Homo sapiens: one gene and its partners. The main gene of each other region encodes a partner of the protein of the gene in region 3 in a complex. Each region holds a gene or a part of one and is shown on either strand. Other genes may lie near its edges.

Region 1 (3,429 bases), on a different chromosome or scaffold from region 3:
GGGACTTTCACTCATAACCAGCAACAGGAAAAAAGAGAGCCCGGGGCAGGACAGGATGGAGTCCAGAGCGTGGGTCGAATCTGGCAGCGGGGACTGAGAACCCAGAGGGCTGGCAGCACCACAAAAACCTACCACCAACCAGAGCTCACTACGTTCCTAATGTTTAAAGATGTTTTCAATTAACATAAAACCATATGTACATATTTTAATACATTTTAATGGTATTTATTAACACTACAATAAAAATGTGTTAATGTGCCTTTTGATGAAGTAATTCTGTATCTTGGAAACAAGTCAGAAATGGCGAGAAATTCAGCTGTAAAGCTGCTCACTGCAGTTTTTATTCTAACTGGGAACTACCTAGATGTCCTTTCATGAGGTACTTGTATAAAATGTCTCATCATGCCACTATGAAAATCGGTATTTCGTAAGAAATGGTAATAGCTTTGTTTCCATTGTTATGAAAAACTGACAAGTCTGAAGAATCACATCCATAAAAAGGATTATGTGATGATAAAAGTCCTAAAAATACCCACATCCCACCTCATGGAAGAAGCAGCATTAAACATGTTTACAGACTGACCGCCACACGTTCACACATAGCTACAACAGAAGGAGAACCGGCCTCTGTCAAAAGCTTGTCACCAAAGTCCTTTCTTCCATCACCACCTCACTGATCCTTGCCACAGATCAGTAACTCATCAATCACCAGTCTCACCTTACAGGTGAGGAGGCCAAGGCTGGCTTTGCACTTCCAGAGCTGGCCAGGAAGCTACACGTGCCCGACACACCTGTTACATCTCATGGCCACAGCACATCCCAACGCAGGCTCAAGCACACTGAAACTCACTATGTCGAGCCCTGTTACCCGGACCCATAGGTTACTGAGTTCTTGTATTTCTAATTAAAGATTTTATTAACACTTAAGATTAATATAAAGTAATACTATATATTGTATCACAATGCAATATAAAAGTTAATAAAATCATTGTTTTGTTAATATTTACCATAAAAGTTATATTTATCTTTGAAGCACTAAGATCAATACCTAGGGACACCATTCTACTCTGTGGGATTGCAGGTCAAAGATTAAATACAAATTTATTTAAATAAAGGCCCTTTAATAGCATAGAAACAATATATATTCATACAATAAAATGTAAGCTGAAAAATGCACGGAACAAAATATGTGTGCTGTGACCACAGACGCGTTCTGAAAAATACGTGCGCTGTGATTGCAGACGCGTTCTGAAAAATACGTGTACCATAATCACAGACGCGTTCGCAAAAATACATGCACTGTGATCGCAGCACGTGCGCCGAGACCGCAGACGCGTTCTGAAAAACACGTGCGCCGTGATGGCAGACGTTCTGAAAAATACATGCGCTATGACCATAGATGCATTCTGAAAAACACATGCACCATGACCGCAGATGCGTTCTGAAAAATGTGTGCTGTGATCGCAGACACGTTCTGAAAACTACTTGCGCCCAGACCGCAGACGCGTTCTGAAAAATACGTGCGCTGTGACCGCAGACGCGTTCTGAAAAATGGGAAAAAAAACCTGGAAATACTTGCTGTTACTTGGGCTGCCGGGGACAGGAGGATTTGGGTGGTTTTCATTCCTACTTTACTTATTAGGTGATACTATGAAAAAAAAACCACCATGTATTACTTTCAGTTTTTAGTGAGCAGAAACCAACTAAGAAAAGCAGCTCTCCACACAGGGAAAGCCAGCGGGGCCCCACTGCCTGGACAGACAAGCCACGTCAGAGCAGCCACAGACCTGATGGCCACACCTGAGACGGCTGCCCTGCCTTGGCCCCTGGACCCCGGGGGAGGCCCAGATGACGCCTCTCCCACACCCTCAACGACTGTCACCTGGCAGAGAACCTTGTGCCGTTAGACGTGGAACCTGCCGTCGTGATGAACACGCCTCCAACAGTTCCCTGAGCCATTTCTGAAAAGGGAAAGAAAATAAGCGAATGGTCATGAAACAGAAACAACACAAGACGCACAGGCAACCAACAAAATGACGCGCAGTTCCACAGGACAGACGGCTGTAGAAGCTTCCGGATATCCTTCGCTTGTCCAGTATTTTCCACACTGCGCCACGGAGCAGGACATCCCGCTGTGCAGTCACATAAGCCTGTCTTCTCTAAAAAGGCAAGAACAGCCTTGCAATAAATACCTGCACACACTGACTTACAAACGGCACACGTGTGCTGCTGCCTCAGTATCATACCCATCGTGAAACGGAACCGAATCAAAGTGTCAAGCTGAAACCCTCTTCCCACAGCCCATCCTGGCAGCTCCATGAAGCACGGGACAGAGGCCGGGGTCAGGGCCCAGCCCACGTGGGCGGCCAGAGCCCACTGTCACCTGACAACATGGACCAGCCAGATTTTCACAAGATCTGGGGCAGTCTAAGAGCTCAGGGAGGAATCTCTGACCCTCTCAGGGAATAAATCTACACCCCAAGTTTAGGCTAACAAGAGAAGGATCAGCAGATATGACACCTTCACAATTTCTCACCTTAAAGCCATCCTGCTGTCAGTGGCTGGGACCCTACGGCCCCCAAGGAAAGAATTCACCAGAACAGAAAAAAAGCTCCTTCAACAAAAGCTCCTGTGCTCCCGGCCCTCCGGAGCAGGACGCCAATGACTCTGAAATGCTTTTTCTTGGTGACTTTGCCCTAGTGACCAATCAGCTACCATCAGTGGGTGGGATCAGCAATCCAACTGCACTTCTCAAAGAATCTCAACTTCTACTTCTGGGCCTACTTGGAGGGTAAAATCCTGACTTAGCACCTCCTCACACAAACCACATAGGAAATCCACACGAGCCACCTGTGGACTCAAGGCCCCCATATCCAGTGGGTCACGGCACTGGCTGGACCCCACCCCAGCCACACCCCTGCCCTCATCCCCCTCACAGCCCCTTTGTCTTTGCTCCTGGCCCTACACACGTGGGCCTGATCTCAGCAAGACACATCCCGAGCCGGGAGGGGAGGGCACCGTCGGAGGCTGGGGGCCATTCCTCACACAGCCACGCCAGGTTGTCTGGGCATTGCTGACCTGTCACGTATGGCTCCAGAGCCTTGGGGACCAGACTTCTGGCCATTTTAAGGTCTTCGGCAGAGCAGCTCCCCGACTCCAGCCCGCAAGCCATGCCCATCCGCTTCAGCACTTCTATGTCATCGTGGATTTCAAATGTGTTGTCAAAATTAAACAGATACTCAAATCTGAAGGGGAAAGGCACAGTCAGAAAGACAGGGTCTCCCAGCGGAGACGGTACACACTGGGGTGGAGCCAGGACGGCTGACCCGCTGACCGCCACACACAGCTTCCCGGTTCCCAGTCATCAGTGTCTCCTCACAGAATTTATAAACTCTGAAGTAAATGAGATGAGAGGCAAATCGAGGCCTA
Region 2 (4,319 bases), on a different chromosome or scaffold from region 3:
CGTGTAGTAGTAACATCCGACATTTCCGATAAACCCACAGCTCTACCTGCTGCTGTCGTGGAAACAGTGGTGGTGGTGGTGCTGGCTGTGGTGGCTGTTGTTGCCAATGGGGTAAAGAGGAATCGCTGAACAGTACCATTTGGCATTGCAGCTTGCATTAGCTGCTGGCCTGGGCCTGGGAGTACAGTCACCCCTTGAGGTATCAACTGCAACTGTCCAGTAGTTTGACCTTGTCCTTGAATTACTACTGTCAAACCTTGATTGCCACCCTGTGGAAAAAACACAACATGTAAACAGTGTTCAAAGCATCAATCTGTATGTATATCATTTTTATTAAATCATTTTTATGTGTAATTATCTTTTAATATAATGAAAATACATATTTGAATGTCACCAGCAGGAATTTAGATAAGCTAAAGTAAGAATATTTATGTTGCTTAGTAGGAAAAACATCAACAATCCAGAGTTCCAGTTCAAGCTCCCCCAATGGTCAGCCAGTTATCTGTCCACAAGCAACACTGTTCCTCCAGATCCAAGTTTCCCAATCTATAAAATAAAGGTATTGAATAACTAAAGTCCCCACAAAATTCTGATTTTAAATAATCTTATATTCATATTTTACAATTTCAAAAGCATCTTCATAGATACTGCCTCATTTGATTCTCACAATGGACTTGTGACTTTATGGGGTAGGCAGAGAAAATATTCTTCTGATTCCCAACTAAGAAACTCAGGTTAGAAAGGTCAAGTACCCTGGCCAACTTAAAGGTGAGATAAAAGAAGGAACCTAGATCTCCTGAATTTTGTCTTTCAATACGTGCCAAATTACCTATGGGGTGTGTGTGTGCTAAACTGTAAAAAGCTTAGGGTTTTAGATATGTAATGCAAACACCAAGTAAGGAGGATCACTAAGGTCTGAGCAGTTACCAAAAAGGGGTCCAGAAATTTAAAATTCTCTAGGCGCTCTCTCTTCTGTCCAGAACTGTAATTCAACTAGAAACCCTGAATACCAGGAACATGCTGGAGAACTGGAAAGCAAAAGTAAAAACCATCCCCTAAACTCCCAATGACCAAAACTGATGGCGCAAAGTCCATGTACTAAGTAAGCTCCATATACATGTGAATCCCTCAAAACTTATTTACTCTTGCTTTTCTAAAATACATTTTTTATGCACAAAATGCACAAAACACCAAGTATAATTTAAAAATTATAAAGTAAACATCTATAAAACCGCCACTGTGGTCACCATTGCCAGTGTCCTAGAAGTCCCCATATGACTCACCCGGATTTCAATTCCCTCCCTCTCCCCTAGAGGTAAGCACTATCCTCACTTTGATGATAACACTGTATTTCATTACTACTTCGGTATGTATCTTAGGTATATATAAGGCCACTGAGGTTCACAAACTCAGGAGCAATATTCACAAAGAATACAATGGGAATAGTGCCCCCTCCAGGCAGGCAATGCAGCAGCCCTGTATCCCTACACAAAATAGCTTAGTTTTGCCTATTTCTGAATCTTATACAAATGAAATTATAACATGTATTTTTTTTGGCAGCTACTTGCTTCTTTAGCTTACCATTATATATTTGTGAGAATCATCTGCATAGTTCTGTGTGGCTGAAGTCTATTCATTTTTATTGCTGTAGGAATATACTACAATTTACTTAGCTAACTGATTTTGATAGACACCTGAGTTGTTCTTAGTTTTTGATTCTTATGAACAATGCTGCTACCAATATTTATGCCATGTATTCTGGTGCTCACATGGCCAACAACTTCTCTAGGGATATACCTAGAAGGTATACTGGGACCTTGGGCATACACAGCTTTGACTTTACCAGACCATGTCCAGGAAGTTTCCAAAATGGCTGAACCGACTGATAGGCCCACCAGCTGTGCATGAGAATTCTTTCTGCTCTATGTCTTTGCTAACTCTTGGTTTTGTTGGACATTTAAATTTGTACCAATCTCTTAAGCATATGGTTTTAATATGTACTTCTCTCATTATTAATAAAGTTCAGCAGTTTTTTGGAATTTGGGACATTTAGATTTCTTCTTTCCTCATAATGTTGGTTTGTCCTTTTTTTTTTGTTTTTCTTTTTTTTGAGACGGAGTCTGTTGCCTAGGTTGGAGTGCAGTGGTATATCTTGGCTCGCTGCAACCTCTGCTTCTTGGGTTCAAGCAATTCTCCTGCCTCAGCCTCCCAAGCAGCTGGGATTACAGGCGTACACCACCACGCCTGACTAATTTTTGTATTTTTAGTAGAAACGGGGTTTCCCCATGTTGGCCAGGCTGGTCTGAAACTCCTGACCTCAAGTGATCCACCTGGCTTGGCCTCCCAAAACCTTGGCCCCCCAAAGTGCTGGGATTACAGGTGTGAGCCACCGCACCTTGCCTGTTTGTCTTTTTTCCTATTGATCTATCTGGATTTTTTTCTTTCTTGATTTGTAGTAATTCTTTATATATTCTGGATATGTAATAGTCCTTGGTTGGTTCTTTTCTCATTTTCTTCACTCTCTCTGTAGTGAGTTTGATGAACAGAGGTTCTTACTCTTATTTTTAAAGTAGTTGAATTTATAAATCTTTTCATTTATGGTTAGCATTTTCTATCTGTTTAGGAAAGCTATGAAGATATTCTTCTATCTTCTAAAGGTATTATAGTTTTACCTTTCACAGTTAGGACTTTCATCCTCCTGGAATTGAGTTTATGTAGAGTGAGGTAATAATGGTCCAATTTCACAGTTTCCCATGTATATTCAATTGTCCTGGCACCATTTACTGAAAAGTCATCTCTTCCTCAATGATCTGCAATGTCACCTTTGTCATATAACAAGTGTCCACATACATGGGGTTCATGTTCTGCACTCTCTACTGTTCTGTTGGTCTATCTGCCTCTCCTTATGTCTGTACCTCACTATATTAATTAGTGAAGTATTATATACTAAGTTTTTTGGTTTTTTTTAGATGAAGTCTTGCTTTGTCACCCAGGCTGGAATGCAGTGGTGCAATCTCAGCTCACTACAACCTCCGCCTCCCAGGTTCAAGCAATTCTCCTTCCTCAGCCTCCTGAGTAGCTGTGATTACAAGCGCATGCCACCACGCCCAGCTAATTTGTTTGTACTTTTAGCAGAGATGGAATTTCACCATGTTGGTCAGGCTGGTCTCAGACTCCTGACCTCAAGCAATCCACCCGCCCTGGCCTCCCAAAGTGCTGGGATTACAGGCGCAAGCCACCATGCCCAGCCTATACTAAGTTTTGATATCAAGTTATCATATATAGGGCAAATAATCCTGTTCTTCAAAGGTACAGATATTCTTAATACTTTGTACCTCCATATAAACTTTCAGTATCAGCTTGTGAAGTTTCACTAAAAACAAAACCTCTTGGGATTTTGATGGGAGCTGCATTCAATTTATTAATCAATATTAGAAGACTTGCTAACAATATCGAGTCTTGCAAGGAAGCAGCTTAATGTACTCAAATTTTATTTGTCTCATGGAGATTAGCCAACTAATAAAATTTTGGTGTTTAAAAGGGTTATCTGTCTCACTGTTTTAGCTCACTGTCTAAAGATTACTCTAGTAGTTGGGGTTTATTATATCCTGTCTAAGAGGTATTTCTGCTTGACTCCAGGAAGCAACCATTTCTTCAAATCAGCACATTTAAAAACGTATCAAAATAAGTTCATGTTTTTAAACTTACCGCAAGAATAAATAAGATCACCTCTAAAGTTAAAATAAAGCTTATGTTACTTACGTGGCCCTGTGTTAACTGAGTAAGTTGAGCCATGGTGAGCTTCACTTGTCCTTGTTGGGGGCGAGGGGGTTGTGAGGCTGAAGACTGTATATTTGAAGTGGACGTTGCTGAAGTTAAGCTTTTCTGCCCAGGTGTTGAGGAAACCGTGTTAGGGGCGGAGACTGCAGTGGAGACAGGCTGCCCCCTGATGATTTGAGTCATCACTTGCTGAGGAGCACCTACCCAAACAGCAAAACATTATGAATGCTTATACACCCTTGGCATTATTTTGAATTGAAATAATTCAACACCTCACATGAACGTATTCTTTTCCATCTTCAAAAAAACACTGGGATATTCAGAGCCTAAGGATACATTCAGACATATACCCACATCCAAAGGTCCTGCCTGGTTGGCAGTGAGTCTGTTTTCACTGCCAACCGTTATCCAGTCTCTGCTGTCTGTAGGATAATGGAAAAAACCAATTAAAATTCTTCCTATAAATCTAAAACCAAAATGATAATAGGGAAGACAAAAAAGAATGTGTAAAATATGCCATTTATAAGGCTGCCTTTTCT
Region 3 (3,071 bases):
GATGCCTCCTGTTTGTCAAATAGAATGAATGGTGATGGTGATGGGAGGGATAGTTAAACGTTTTCTCTGCTAGGTTAACTTCTTACAGGTATAATTACAATGCCTGAAATTCTGTAGTTTCATTTCTTTGGATTAGTCGTTGTCTTTTCCAGATTGTACACAATCTGATCAACACAAAGGTAGTTAGTAGATCATTAACCTCAATTGCAAGGTTATAATTTCTCAAACATTAAGCATATTATCAGTCATGTGGATTCAAACACAGTATAAGAAAATCCTCAAGGCTGGGTGTGATGGCTTATGCCTGTAATCCCAGCTACTTAGCAGGCTGAGGCAGGAGTATTGTTTGAACCCAGGAGGCAGAGTTGCAGTGAGCCAAGATCGTGCCACTACTCCAGCCTGGGCAAAATAGCAAGACCCGACCCCCCATCTCTACTAAAAAGAAATTTAAAAAAATAAAATCCTAGAAAATTAGAAAAAGCAACAATAGTTACTTGTGGGCCAGGCGCGGTGGTTCACGCCTGTAATCCCAGCACTTTGAGAGGCTGAGGCACGTGGATCACAAGGTCAGGAGTTCAAGACCAGCCTGGCCAAGATGGTGAAACCCCGTTTCTACTAAAAATACAAAAACTAGCTGGCCGTGGTGGCATGCTCCTGTAGTCCCAGCTACTCAGGAGGCTGAGGCAGGAAAATCACTTGAACCCAGGAGGTGGAGGTTGCAGTGAACTGAGACCGTGCCACTGCACTCCAGCCTGGGTGGCAGAGCGAGACTGTCTCAAAAAAAAAAGAAAGTTGTGAATTTGATGTAAGCTTAGGAAATGAATAAAATTTATAGGCATCTGTATAATGTACAACTTGACACGGACTTTCTTTTATCCTTAGTTTCTTTCACGGACTCTAGAACTTTTATCAGAATATACTGGTAAAACATTGGGGGAGGGATCCTGAGTAGGTGATTGGTCAGAAAGATGCCTTCAGTTTTGTCAGTGTCTAAAAGTTAAGTCTGTTTAGGCCAAGCATGGTGGCTCACACCTGAAATCCCAGCACTCTGGGAGGCCGAGGCAAGTGGATCACAAGGTCAGGAGATGAGACCATCTTAGCCAACATGGTGAAACCCCGTCTCTACTAAAATACAAAAAAATTAGCCAGGCGTGGTGGTGCGTGCCTATAATCCCAGCTACTTGGGAGGCTGAGGCAGGGGAATCGCTTGAACCCGGGAGGCAGAGGTCACGCCACTGCACTCCAGCCTGGCAACAGAGCAAGACTCCGTCTCAAAAAAAAAAAAAAAAAAAAAGAGTAAGTCTGTGTAACATGAACATCTCTGCTTCCACCCAAAACCACAGCCTTTGAATATTATATAAGGAACTTAATGGATAGATATGTTTATTATTTTTGATAGCACAACTGCTTTCTCTGCTATTATAAGGAAAACTGAGAATAGCAGGTGGGTAGGGTAGGATGAGGAAACAAGATGCCCAAAGCCTAGATGCCACAGAATTCATGGTGATAATCAGGGCATATTTTGAGTCCTACTAGAAACAAACATTCCAAATGAACTCTGAATGCCTGACTCAGGCGTTTTGGAGGTTTGGGTTATCCCCTTGTCATTAGGCACACAAGGGTTTTTTGTTGTTTTTGTTTTTTGGGTTTTTGTTTTGTTTTGAGGCAGTCTCACTCTGTTGTACAAGCTGGAGTGCTGTATTGTGATCTTGACTCACTGCAACCTCTGCCTCCTGGTTCAAGCGATTCTCCTGCCTTGGCCTCCTGAGTAGCTGGGATTATAAGTGCCTGCCACTATGCCCGGCTAATTTTTGTATTTTTAGTGGAGATGGAGTTTTGCCATGTTGGCCAGGCTGGTCTTGAACTCCTGACTCCAGGTGATCCACCCTCCTCAGCCTCCCAAAGTGCTAGGATTACAGGCGTGAGCCACCCCGTCCGGCCTGTTTTTAAGGCATTAATTAGTATTGTTAGGAAAGCAGTAACAATGCAAACACCACTCTTCTCTTCACAAAGATCACCTTGAGACTGTGTCTCCATTCCACCTGCCTGAGAAGTGGGAGCATCAGCCTGTTCCAGGCTCTTGGGTAGTAGCATAGCCCTTTAAAAAGAGAGAGCCATTTTCCATGTGTTTTTGGATAAGCACAATTTGAAAATCATTTCCCAAATCCTCTTTTTGTTTTTGATTCTAAGGTAAAATTTTCCCTAAGCCCTCCCACCATCCCCTCAGCCAGTATTAGATGAGATTTGTATAGCAGCAGAAACTGACTTATAAGTAGAGAGCTCTTCAGCAAGACTGAGCCTTAGCTGTTCCATCTCTTTGTTCTTCTGTTGCTGGAGTTGCACCCCATTTCTTAACTGCCTCTGGCGTTCTTCCATTTCCTCCAGCTGTTCCTGCATGAGATGGCCAAGAACATTTCTAATGAGCCAAACAATAAAAACTCACATTGTCCACTCTTACTTATAAAACACTTTTTTGTTCATTGTTTAATCTTGATAGCAGTATTGAGGCTGGTATTTATATGATAGGTTATGAAACAGGTTCAAAGAAGTTGTGTCTTGGAAAAAAAGTGACAATGCTTTTGAAAATGATGACGAAAAAGGCATCTTGTCTGTTAACCACAGCTTGCTTTAATAGAATCCTGGGAGGGTGATTGGGACTTTTTAGTATTACAACCTTAGTGTCATTGAGGAGGATTTTGGTCTAGTTAGTGGGCTGAGTTTCATATACCTCTCCCTCCATGTGCAGGTTTGTTAAGATAATTGGTAGTTTTTAATAATATAAAATACTTAAGTTGAAATACAAAAGTGTGGCAACAATTATTAAATATTGGCTAGAATTCTAGGAGAGTTACACAACTAGTGGAAGTCCATGTTTAGAAAATAAATGGCTTGTTTAAGGAAAAGTTTTTGTGTCCAAAGCTCCTTAAAGTCAGAGAGATTTCTACCTGGTACTTAACATCATATGGAAATTGATGCTTTAGTGAGGGTGTTGGCTATCCTATTGCTAATTTCCTGCATCCTTTTTTCTTCTTTATTTTTGTATAGAGACAGGGTCTCGCTATGTTGCCCAG
Region 4 (4,319 bases), on a different chromosome or scaffold from region 3:
ACTTTGATCTTGTGTGAAATTGTGACTCAGTGCTGAGCTTTAGACCCAGATAAATGTTGAGGGGGAATACAGAAGAGAATTGACCTTTCTGAACAGCTCAACCTAGTTTCTAAAGGCAAGATTTTACTCCAGCGACATGTACTGGTGACCATGATGTCACTCTGTGAGCTGGCCTCACCAGTAACCCAAACACAACGCTGAGGAAGGAGACCATTTCCCACCAACAGCACACACCTATGGCTGGGGTGGCCAATGATGGGGCACCAATAAGGATAAGAGTCTTTGGCGGCTTTCTTTTTTTGAGCCCATATTTTATCAATTTAAAGCATGAGAGCAGCAGAGATGGAGAGTAGAGAAAAAAACAGGTTTCCCAAGAACTCTGGCAAGAATGTTGCTACTTGGTGAAGGAATGGTTATCATTAGTGCACCTGTCTTAAATCCTGAAATGCATCTTGGGACCTGCAGTTCAATATTTTGAAGACTACAAAGGTAGCAGTGGCTGTTGGCCTCTCCAGGTCCCTGCTGGGTCCCAGAGATGAGAAAGGGTGGAGTTAGTAAAAGAGGAGGCTGCCCCTTAAAGGACAGTTTGGTTTGGAGGGAAATCCCAATCCGTGCAGCTGAAAGATTCCCTGCAGGCCCCTGGGGACCTGCTGTCACCTCCCCAGTGTTCCTGACTGGTCTGAGAGGTGTGCTCCAGAACCCACGATAAGACCGAGTTCTCTAGAAACTGCCTCTATCTCTGAGTCTGTACTATGGCTTATTTCTGACAGAATGAAACTTTTGTATCAAAGGAGCTTCAGCTAAAGTTGAATGTTTTTCTTTCTCAGTTTTTATGGCCTTATTAAACATGTTTAGCTAGCCAAAGCTTCCTCCTCCTCACCATGCTCAGTGTTAGCATGGTGGTGAGGCTATAAAGAGGCACCACAGGAAGGAGCCTGCACTTCCCCCATGGGATTTAAAAAAGAACCAATTTGGGCCATGCTTGGTGCATCTAGCATAATCTTGGGACAAATCCACATGATTCAGGTCAAAGTTTTGGAGTTAATTCTCCCATTATTATTTGCTCCTTTCCAAAGCCTTAATGTGAAATTCAGTCAGGGTCTGGCCATGGTGGCAGGTGTCCCTACACTCTTTCATTCAGAGAAGGAGCAGCTGTGAATACACCACTGCAGTATTTCTAATGACATCTTGAGCCATAAACAACATAACTGCACTACCATATATCCAGGCAGTAGGAGTGTTCAACGTTTTCTAGTGTTTCTGTGAAACACTAAATATTGGATTAGTTTGAAATGCAATTGACCCCAGGAGTAGGCTCAATAAGGTCATTCTGATTAATGAAAATGTGAAAAAAGGTGACATGTACAAGGAAACACTGCTGTTCATATTCTTGAAATAGACTTTTCTTTAAGACAAAAGTAATGACATTTGGTTCATTTTCACAAATTGCACACTGGGTGAGATCATACAATTACTGCAGGGAACTGTAGGCAAGCAATTTGGTCATAGGAATTTGTTTCTTTGTCTTGTTTTAAATGAAAAAGCTATATGAAATGCATAGCTTTGATTAACCTAAAGATACAGTTTCCTTCTTTGTAAAACTCCAGATTTAGGATGCTGGCAAAGGCAGTGCTGGCAAAGTATTTAATGCACATGGAAATGCTATTCTATTTTGGCTTCCAGAAGTAGCCCTAGTAAATTCTATGCACCAATGCATTGGCTAATAATAATTTCAGTTTTACTATAAATTATCTAAATGTCACTTAAGTACTTAAGAAGTAGCGCTCGCTCCTTTCTAGAAGCTGTCTAAGGCAGCTGATGCGTAAAGCACCTCATCTAGACCTCCAACTAGTTCAGCAGTTCAATCTGTGCCCCTCAGCCACAGGACTGCCCTCAGTATCCCTCACTACACAGCTCCCCTCTCCTGGGGACTTTTCATGTTCATTTCTGCCTTGTCAAAGGCAGTCCAGGCAAGGAAGAGAAACGTCAGAAACACGATCGTCAAGGACTGCTCCGTGTAGCAATCTCAATTCTAAGAATAATTACATGGGTGTGAGGAACACAAAAATCCCACCTCACAGAAGATAAATGAGTTGCACTCACACTGCCAACTCTTCAGGGATTATCCCCACTATCTCCTCAGAAAGCATGCTTTCTTTGTTATATCATCTACTGCTCTGTTGGCCAGACTTTCATTCACACTATGTTAACTTTCATCTCAATCATCTCAGCCTTCATGTGATTTGCTTATTGTGTTTCTCTAGTTTTCACTGAACACACAGTGCAAACAAAGGCAAAGACTGAAGCAATCATTTCAAAAACAAGAGCTCACACTACAAACACACATGAGCATCACATATTGAAACGTAGGCTTTCTCTTGTCTTTATTCTGGGGAGGAGGAATCCTCCTCATCATCTTCCTCATCTTCATCATTGAACGAACAGGGGGTCTCGCCTCGGGACTCGGAGCAGTGAGAGGCCGCACTGCTGGACTGGTGACTGTTTGGGGCCAGGAACTGCCCAGTTGCTAAGGCCACTTCTGCATCCAAGCATAACCCTTGGTTTACACTAGCAAACAATTAAAAACACACAGGCTCATTAATGTGGTATAAACAGTTTTGTAAAACATAGGAATAAAAACAGGAAGGAGGTGCCATTGGTGAGATCTGCCACAAACCTGCTCAGCAGGACCTGTGCTGGCAGTAACATGACCCCGGCTCACCCCTACACAGACAGTCAGGGCTCTGGGGTTTGCCTTTCTAACCCTGAAAAAAATACGTACCTTGACTGGGGTAAGGTGGCACCAGTGGTCAGGTCTAAATTTGAAACTGATTGGGTAGAGTTCAGAAGTAGTCCCTGATTTAACCAAGAAGGTCCTGTGGAGATATCTAAAGGAAAAAATGAGAACAAAAAATGTCGGTCCTGCAAGTTCTGTGGCTGCTGTTGTTACAGTCTGAGGAAAGCACAGAAAAGCAAGAGCTAAGCTTATTCTTCATGACAGCTAGACAATTCTCTTGCTGTGACAAGAACCCAGGTTTCTTCATCTTCTTGGAAGAAAAAAAAATTTCTAGAACATAAGAGCAGGAAAAAAAAAATACGGGAAGGCAGCTTACGGAGAGAAGGTATTCAAATGAAAACACTCAAAGGCACTTTCTTACTCTTTTTCTTAGATAAGCCCTCCAGAGCACAGCCCATGGGATACATCCCAGTGTACCACCCTCAATGCCTTCTGCCCTCAGCACAAAAGACCTGGACTGTGGTGTTGAGAGCCAAAGCCAGAAGTGGGAAAAGAGAAAATCAAATCAGAAATACATGAGGTAAGAAGGCCACCCTGCTTAGAGGGCAGACAGACATGTTTTGGCCAAAACCCCCGCCGCAATGTCTTTTCAGGTGCCTGCTGCTGGTGAACTCAATGCTGCTACTCATCAAATATCTATTCTTTTTCCTGACAAGATTTTTCCTGGTGTCTGTTGCTTTCTAATTCAAACTAGCTCTTATTTTATTTTTTTTATTATTATTATACTTTAAGTTTTAGGGTACATGTGCACAATGTGCAGGTTAGTTACATATGTATACATGTGCCATGCTGGTGTGCTGCACCGATTAACTCGTCATTTAGCATTAGGTATATCTCCTAATGCTATCCCTCCCCCCTCCCCCCACCCCACAACTAGCTCTTATTTTAAAAAGGTCACATGCAGTCATGTTTTTAATGAGGCAGACACAGACGTTACTGTTTTAGTCTACAGAAAATAGTTTGGGCTGAGCACGGTGGCTCACGCCTATAATCCCAGCATTTTGGGAGGCCAAGGAGGGCGGATCACCTGAAGTTGGGAGTTCTGTCCAACATGGAGAAACCCCATCTCTATTAAAAATACAAAATTAGCTGGGCGTTGTGGTGCATGCCTGTAATCCTAGCTACTCGGGAGGCTGAGGCAGGAGAATCACTTGAACCCGGGAGGCGGAGGTTGCAGTGAGCTGAGATTGCACCACTGCACTCCAGCCTGGGCAACAAGAGCGAAACTCCATCTCAAAAAATAAAAGAAAAAAAGAAAAGAAAATATTTTGGATATCTCCTTGCCATCTTCTTTTCTATACATATACCACATTTATCCTATGACAACACTGATCAATTCTTATTGTAATTTTACTGGTTTAATACTTTTTATCTTCCCATCTACAGTGTTAGCTCAAAGAAGGCAGTAACTGGAACATGTAAGATCTAAATGTGGCGGGGCGCGGTGGCTCATGCCTGTAATCCCAGCACTTTGGGAGGCCAAGGCGGGCAGATTGAGCTCAGGAGTTCGAGACCAGCCTGG

Evidence for each region. The genes of interacting proteins can lie anywhere in the genome.
Region 1: RBBP4 (region 3) and TFDP1 share a complex: the UniProt entries of both Homo sapiens proteins name them as parts of the DREAM complex.
Region 2: RBBP4 (region 3) and BPTF share a complex: the UniProt entries of both Homo sapiens proteins name them as parts of the BPFT-SMARCA1 complex.
Region 4: RBBP4 (region 3) and TFDP2 share a complex: the UniProt entries of both Homo sapiens proteins name them as parts of the DREAM complex.

Annotation. Positions count from the first base shown.
Region 1 is NC_000013.11:113,636,350-113,639,778, reverse strand, and holds part of TFDP1 (transcription factor Dp-1), read right to left. Parts: intron 3,246-3,429; coding exon 3,079-3,245; intron 2,160-3,078; coding exon of another isoform or gene 1,962-2,159; coding exon 1,883-1,961; intron 1-1,882. UniProt on the Homo sapiens protein: Can stimulate E2F-dependent transcription.
Region 2 is NC_000017.11:67,940,100-67,944,418, reverse strand, and holds part of BPTF (nucleosome-remodeling factor subunit BPTF), read right to left. Parts: intron 3,981-4,319; coding exon 3,763-3,980; intron 270-3,762; coding exon 47-269; coding exon of another isoform or gene 1-46. UniProt on the Homo sapiens protein: Regulatory subunit of the ATP-dependent NURF-1 and NURF-5 ISWI chromatin remodeling complexes, which form ordered nucleosome arrays on chromatin and facilitate access to DNA during DNA-templated processes such as DNA replication, transcription, and repair.
Region 3 is NC_000001.11:32,681,992-32,685,062, forward strand, and holds part of RBBP4 (histone-binding protein RBBP4), read left to right. Parts: 3' UTR 1-1,794; coding exon of another isoform or gene 1,795-2,098; 3' UTR 2,099-2,266; coding exon of another isoform or gene 2,267-2,391; 3' UTR 2,392-3,071. Other genes in the region: SYNC (syncoilin), read right to left, coding at 1,795-2,098, 2,267-2,391. UniProt on the Homo sapiens protein: Core histone-binding subunit that may target chromatin assembly factors, chromatin remodeling factors and histone deacetylases to their histone substrates in a manner that is regulated by nucleosomal DNA.
Region 4 is NC_000003.12:141,950,129-141,954,447, forward strand, and holds part of TFDP2 (transcription factor Dp-2), read right to left. Parts: intron 2,889-4,319; coding exon 2,783-2,888; intron 2,569-2,782; coding exon 2,385-2,568; 3' UTR 1-2,384. UniProt on the Homo sapiens protein: Can stimulate E2F-dependent transcription.